2 linked regions of the Homo sapiens genome follow. The protein of the gene in region 1 purifies or fractionates together with the protein of each later gene. This does not show direct contact. Each region holds a gene or a part of one and is shown in the gene's direction. Other genes may lie near its edges. The genes, in order: MAP3K8 and KSR2.

Evidence for each region.
Region 2: the proteins of MAP3K8 (region 1) and KSR2 purify together in Homo sapiens (affinity purification with western blotting; one study listed by BioGRID). This does not show direct contact.

Annotation. Positions count from the first base shown.
Region 1 is NC_000010.11:30,437,114-30,440,933, forward strand, and holds part of MAP3K8 (mitogen-activated protein kinase kinase kinase 8), read left to right. Parts: exon of another isoform or gene 1-21; intron 22-62; 5' UTR 63-293; intron 294-299; exon of another isoform or gene 300-508; intron 509-1,802; 5' UTR 1,803-1,825; coding exon 1,826-2,161; intron 2,162-3,820.
Region 2 is NC_000012.12:117,962,210-117,966,029, reverse strand, and holds part of KSR2 (kinase suppressor of Ras 2), read left to right. Parts: intron 1-3,820. UniProt on the Homo sapiens protein: Location-regulated scaffold connecting MEK to RAF. Has very low protein kinase activity and can phosphorylate MAP2K1 at several Ser and Thr residues with very low efficiency (in vitro).

The DNA of each region.
Region 1 (3,820 bases):
AGCCATGAAAGCATTTCATAGGTTTCTGCCTTTTTTTTCTCTCTCTTTATGTCTTGTTTTAGATGCAATCTTCTTACCGCGAAGAAGCCAGGGGAATAGGTAGCCACATCTTGTTTGCAGATAAGAAAGGAAGCTAACGCAGTATCTGCAAAGCCAGGAGTCTGACTCAGTACTTTTCTCACTCATGCATACAAAGCAGCTAAAAATGACACAGCTTATTTACCATGCCCCTGACACTGCACTGAGCACTTTATGAGCTTGAACTCTGTTAATCCTCACGACCACCTCATGAGGTAGGTGCTGTTATTACTTCCATTTTACAGATGGGGAAAATTGAGGTCGAGAGAGGTTACGTTACTTGCTCAACGTCATGCAAGCAGTAAATGGGAGTGTGGGGGGAGGCAATGAGATTTGACTCCAAGCAGTCTGAGACCAGAGGAATGTTGGATTGCAGGATGCTAAACTGCTTTCCTCAGACACAATTCATACGTCAGAAAATGACCATCAAGTAAGTGAATGATGACACTAAATTGCATGGTTCTTTTGTCAAATGAAATTCACTGAGAGGCAGATGGCTGGGTCATGCGTGCAGGTGGCTCTGCAGTGGAGCATTTCCTGGAGCTTTGAAATGAAGCTCCAGATTGATCAGACGTGCGTGGCTTTAGCCCTGAGTGTCCTGTGTGTTAAAGGCTTGTGCTTCTCAGAACTTGAAATACCTTTCAGAAAGAGGCTATGCTTTTGGGAGTGCAATCGGTGATTTAAGTAAACCAATGTGCCTTGAAATTCTCTTAGATCTCTTAGGGCCTTTTGTCTTTTCTCCTTCAGAACAGAGTTGTTCTAAAATCCTGAGTAACAACGTCAGTTTTTACCCTTGCTTTACTTTCTTTTTCTCATCTACAGATCTCCAAGTGTGGCAGCTGATTTGTATATAAGAGCTGAAATGCAATTTTGGTTAATATAGTCACTTGGACTTGCTTATGATAAATTTGACTTTCCTGGCTTCTTTCTACTACTCACAGCTTCTAGAAGGCCATTTATTTAGATATTAATCTTCTGGGACCCTCAAGATGTTTGCTTTGCACTATTAAAGAATTCTGGTCCTAAGGGAGGACAGCTGAATCATAGGTTAAATGTATCATCATCTTTCTCATACTCATCACTGGGAGAACAAGGTTTCCTGTCATCCTTCCAATTAGCTGTTTAACTCATTTGCATAAGAATCATTCCTGAAACTTGACCTATTGCCATCAAATTTGTGTAGATTGAAATCCATTTTTCCAGCTTCTGGCTTTCAGGGCCTGAGTTTTATTTGCCAAGTTAGCTCCTGCATTTAGTGAAGAGGTTATTTTTCTTTAAAGTCACCAGAGGCATAAAAAAGCCATAGCGATTCTTGCAGGGAGGGTGCCACTTCGGGGGAATAGCTGGGTTGTGTAAGGTTGGAAGCCCTAAAGAGCCGGTAGCCTAAGGTCTTCAAAGATTTCTGAGCTGCTCTTGATTCGTGTGTATGTTTAGTGAAAGTTTGTTTTCAGTGCCTGTAGCTGATACCACTGACTCTGTGAGTAAGAGTAAGCTCTCTGGATCTCAGGTTTCCCTCTGCAAAGTGAGCTGGACTAAAGGTTATCTTAGGTCCCTTTCAACTCTGCACTGTCAACTTGAATTCATACACACAGTTGACACAGAACCCTCGTTTTCTGAACAAAAGCATATAAAATCCTGTTGCCAATCCTTGTATGTCAGTTTCCCATGGGTCTTGAATGCAAATACAAATATCGTAAACTAAATATTTGTGTTTTCTTTCCTAGACTCTCCAGAAAGAGCAACAGTAATGGAGTACATGAGCACTGGAAGTGACAATAAAGAAGAGATTGATTTATTAATTAAACATTTAAATGTGTCTGATGTAATAGACATTATGGAAAATCTTTATGCAAGTGAAGAGCCAGCAGTTTATGAACCCAGTCTAATGACCATGTGTCAAGACAGTAATCAAAACGATGAGCGTTCTAAGTCTCTGCTGCTTAGTGGCCAAGAGGTACCATGGTTGTCATCAGTCAGATATGGAACTGTGGAGGATTTGCTTGCTTTTGCAAACCATATATCCAACACTGCAAAGCATTTTTATGGACAACGACCACAGGAATCTGGAATTTTATTAAACATGGTACGTTTCTTTCCGATCAGTTGGGTGCTATGTGCTCAGCTTTCCTACTGCAGCTTCATTTAATGCAGAGTGGTGTTTGAATTTGGCTTAGATGGGCTGGCAGGCATGATTTTAAAAAATGTAATCATCAGTAAGAAGTACTTCCATGTTAAAGATGCAAAAAAAAAAGTCTTCATTAAAATTTCTATTTAAAGATTCTTGATCATATTTTAGTAGTATTTCTACAAATAGGTAATTAAGAAGAATGTATTTTGGCCGGGTGCAGGGGCTCACGCCTGTAATCCGCGCACTTGGAGAGGCCGAGGTGGGTGGATCACTTGAGGTCAGCAATTAGAGACCAGTCTGGCCAACATGGTGAAACCCCGTCTCTACTAAAAATACAAAATTAGCCTGGCATGGTGGCGGGTGCCTGTAATTCCAGCTACCTGGGAGGCTGAGGCACGAGAATCCCTTGAACCTGGGAGGTGGAGGTTGTGATGAGCCGAGATCACACCACTGCACTCCAGCCTGTGTGACTGAGTGAGACTCTGTCTCAACAACAACAAAGAAGAATGTATTTTAATTTAACAGTTCACTAAAAAGTTTATTCATCAGTTATGCAGAAAAGAAAGGCTTAATGAGACTCCTTCGTCTGAGAGGGGAATAAACACTTTGTCACTAATTAATCTTGAAGGCTGAATTATTTGTTCCTTTCTTGTCACATCTTGAAATGTTATTAATTCATTTCTTGCAAAAATGTAGTATGTAGGCAGTAAATAGCTATCCACAGATTCACTCTCTTTCATTGGCAAAGTATGAATGGCAAGTGATATATTTGCTTAATCATCGCAAGTATGCAAATCATGCAAAATATTGTGGCAACATTTTGTTGCCATAATAGTAGATCAGGTGATGTGTTTAGGTGTGCCTGGGATTCTGTCAGGCTTTTAGTATGTCAGAGGTGAACGTAGGTGCTGGCTAAAGGTAACCTAATATTTTTAAAAAGAATAATTTGCAAAGGAGTAGGTGGTAGCTTGCAAAACATGCTTATTGATGAAAGTGACGCCCTTTCTTTTGGTGTATCTAAATGGCAAAATGGCTAATGTTGGGGGAAAGTCGGTGCTGAATGAGTGCGGAGTCCAGAAAAAGTACTTAATTATTTTGCTTTTTTGCATACCACATTCATTTAATTAAAAACAACAGAGTAATTTAGGTCAGGTATGTAGTGAATTGTTTTGTCAGAAGCCAGTCATACTCAACCATAGCTCACAATGGAGCAAGATAATATTTTGCATTGTTGTGTGACTGCTTTGGTCTGGCTCTATCAAGCTCTATTTAATAGTCGACTAAGTACTTTACCTTCAGAATATTTCTTCCTTTTATAAATGAGAAATAATCATTTGAACTAGAAGCCATATCTGATTTTCCCAAATAAAGGATAGTTGGAGAACTCGGGTTCAAAGTTATATATATGTCTATACCGAGAAATATAATTGTTTGTGTATTTCTCTCATTTTTAACGTATTTATTTGTTAAAATGGGAATTAAATTTTTTTTAAAATCCTGCTCCTTCTATAAAAATGAGTATTTTAAATGAAAATATGCAGAAAAAAAACCAAAGTATTCTTGCTTGTAAATATGCAAAGACTTAGGTATGTTTGCTTATTCCGTGGCCTATCT
Region 2 (3,820 bases), on another chromosome or scaffold:
TGCTACAGAGCATGCAACCACTTTCATCCATCTTGCCCAGGGAATGCTCTTGAGCAATTATTCCAATTTGTATTTCCCAGATTTGCAGGGTTAGGGAGGGCCCCTGCAGAGGGGCTGGTAACTTAGGGTCCAGCCAAGTCCAGCCAACGCTAACATTTGGGTCCACGGAATTTTCTAATTTTGTATATCAAAACCATATGAGGGTGCTTGTTAAAATGCAGATTCTTAGCCTCTAACCCTAGAGATTCTAGTTTAGCTGGGATTAGCAAGAGGGTCAAGGAATCTGCGTTTAATAAACAGTCCAGGTATTTCTGATACATGTTTTCAAATGGACACTTTGAGATGCTAAACCATTAGGAGAAAGATGTGATATTTCAGCTCTTTAATGGTGAAAACTCACTGCTTGCTAACACTAATGCAAGTAATAAATTGAATAGATGATCCCTGAACAGTGCTGTGATAATGAACAGCACTTAATAGCATGTATACACTTCTGTAGAAACAAAAATATGCAAGGTGGACTTGGCCTTCAGGAAGCATACTTCATGATATAATAATGTGTATGTGAAATAATGATAAAGTCTAAGTGGTAAATAATATGGGGGACAATGTGTGAGCCCATTAGGCATGTGTTCAGCTGCATGAAATGGAAAACCCAATCCTAGCAGTAAGGCAAATAATGGTTTCTCTTCATGTAACAAGAATTCTGGAGACATATAGCTGCTTCAGTTGGCTCAGTAGGTTAGTAATACCAGGGCTGATGTCTTTGGGAATTCTCATGGCTTTTCTCTTATGGTTGCAAGATGGTTCCTGCAGCTTCAGCGATTACATCTGAGTTCAAGGTAGGAAAGAGGAGGACCTGGTGAGTGTGAAGGAATAAAGGGTTCCCCAGGACATCTCTTCCTCCTCACCTTGCAGATGATTTGATTATATCTTCTTGGCCAGAACTGAGTCCTAGCTGCAAGGGAGCCCGGGAAGTGGGGAAGTGGGACCACCACCAGGATCGGCTTAGATGGATCATGATCCATTGCCTGAAATGACATGTTGCCACTCCATGCAAAATCAGGGCTCTGCTAGTGTGGAAGGAGGCATAGGTAGATATTAAGTAAGTGGACAGCCAGCGATGGCAGCCATGGCACATAGTCAGAAGATATTTTGGTGGAAAAGAAAGTTCATGAACGTTGAGTCAGACTGATATAGTTGTAAATTCTAGCTTGTCTTTTTACTTTATCTTGGGCTAGTGATTTAAGTTTTCTGATTTATAGTTTTAAGTTTTTGGCAAAACAGCAATAATTAAATAATATTCCCTACTTCAGAGGATGGTTATAAGGATTGAAAGAGATAACGTTTTCAAGGGTCTAGCACTATCTGGAACAGAGTGGCTGCAGGTGCTAAATGAATGACAGCTGTGATGATGATAATGATTGGCATTACATGGTGTTGACTAGATGGCATGGAAGGGAGCAGTTCAGATTGGACAGAGAGAAGGAGGAGCTTGAGTAGCATTTCCAAAGTATGTTCTGTAGAACCCTAAATCTGTGGGATGTTAGCGTTTTTAATTCTTTCAACAAATGCTGACATCCAGGCACTGTACTTAATGCTGGTAGTCAATAAGTGTTCTGTGGACAAAACAAATTCTGTGGTTAATAAGTTTGGGAAGGGTTGAGTTAAGCAAAGGGAAACAGGCATCTTTACTGCAGGACTTTTCTCAGAGCCTTTAATATGCTACCTATGTGTATTAGGCCTCCAAGAGAGGATAGAACGGAGTCTCGCTCTTGTCACCCAGGCTGGAGTGCAGTGGCGCAATCTCAGCTCACTCTGCCTCCTGGGTTCCAGTGATTCTCTTGCCTCAGCCTCCCAAATAGCTGGGATTACAGATGCCCGCCACCATGCCCTGGTAATTTTTGTGTTTTTAGTAGAGACGAGCTTTTGCCATGATGGCCAGTCTGGTCTTGAACTCCTGACCTCAGATGATCTGCCCGCCTCGGCCTCCCAAAGTGCAGGCGTGAGCCACTGCACCCGGCCCAAGGATTTCTCCTGGGATTTTTGTTCCATAGGATACACCTGGGAAAACATTTGGCAAAGCAGGGAAACCTTCTTGGTTGGGGAGATGGGGATTTGGAGTGAAGGATGAGGAGGGTTTAGATTGCAGCAAAAGGGGAGAGCATGCTGGACAAGAACAACAAACCAGATGAAGGTATTTGAATGCCTTCATGGGGCAGCCTAGAGACCATTTTGCCCAGAATGGAGGGTACCTGGTAGCCTGTCATAGGAAATGAATTTAGGCCACTAACTTCTGGGATCCAACTAAAGATTAGAGAGTCAGACCAACAACGTTTCATCCCTTTGTGGAAGGAGATAGAAGTCTTCAAAGGTTTTGGAATGCATACAATAGAAAAGTATAAGCTTTTTTGTTTTGTTTTTTTTGAGGCAGGGTCTCACTCTGTAACTCAGGCTGGAGTGCAGTGGCACGATCATGGCTTACTGCAGCCTTGACCTCCAGGGCTCAAGAGATCCTCCTGCCTCAGCCTCTTGAGTAGCTGGGACTACAGGTATGCACCACCACGCTTGGCTAATTTTTTGTATTTTTTAAATAGAGACAAGGTATTGCTATGTTGCTCCAGCTGATCTTGAACTCCTGGGCTCAAGTGATTCGCCTGCCTTGGATGGCAGCCTACGGCAGGGGCTGGCAAACTTTTTCTGGAAAGGGACAGATAGTAAAGAGTTTAGGCTTTGTGGACCCTGCAATTTTTATCAAAGCTACTCGACTCTGTGCTGTAGCATGTAGCAGCCATGGGCAGTACATACATGAATGGGTGGGGCAGTTTTCTTTTTATTTTGAGACAGGGTCTCGCTCCGTTGCTCAGGCTGGAGTGCAGTGGCGTGATCTCGGCTCATTGCAACCTCCGCTTCCCAGTTTCAAGTGATTCTCCTGTCTCGGCCTCCTGAGTAGCTGGGATTACAAGCCTGCACCATCACGCCTGGCTAATTTTTGTATTTTTAGTAGAGACAGGGTTTCAGACCAGCCTATTGGCCAGGCTGGTCTCAAACTCCCGACCTCCAGTGATCCGCCCACCTCAGCCTCCCAAAGTGCTGGGATTATAGGCGTGAGCCATCAAGCCGGGCCTGGTGGGGCAGTTTTCTAATAAAACTTTATTTGTGGACCCTGAAACTTGAAATTGATATACTTTTTGCATGTCATGAATATTTTTCTTTTGATTTTTTTTTTGATGTTTATAGTTGTACAAACTGTAGTTTCTGGGCCTTACAAAAACAGGTGATGGTGGCCAGGCACAGTGGCTCACGCCTGTAATCCCAGCACTTTGGGAGGCTGAGGTGAGTGGATCACTTGAGGTCAGGAGTTTGAGACCAGCCTGGCCAACATGGCGAAACCCCGTCTCTACTAAAAATACAAAAATTAGTGGGGCATGGCAGCGGGTACCTGTAATCCCAACTACTCGGGAGGCTAAGGCAGGAGAATCACTTGAACCTGGGAGGTGGAGGTTGCAGTGAACCAAGATGGCACCATTGCACTCCAGCCTGGGTGACAGAGGGAGACTACATCTCAAAAAAAAAAAAACCCAAAAAACAAAACAAAACAAAACCCAGGCGATGGGTCATATTGGGCCCATGGGCTGTAGCTTGCTAATCCCTAGGCTGTAGGATAGATGAGAGGGGAAAAACTCTGAAAGACAGAGACCATCCTAAGGTGAGCAAGTGACACTAGAATGGGAGAGTACTAGCCAAGTAGAGGTAGTTTTGAGCTGGATTCTGTTTTAGTTAAATTGCAAGGGGAAAAAAATATTAGGAGTTGAGGTTG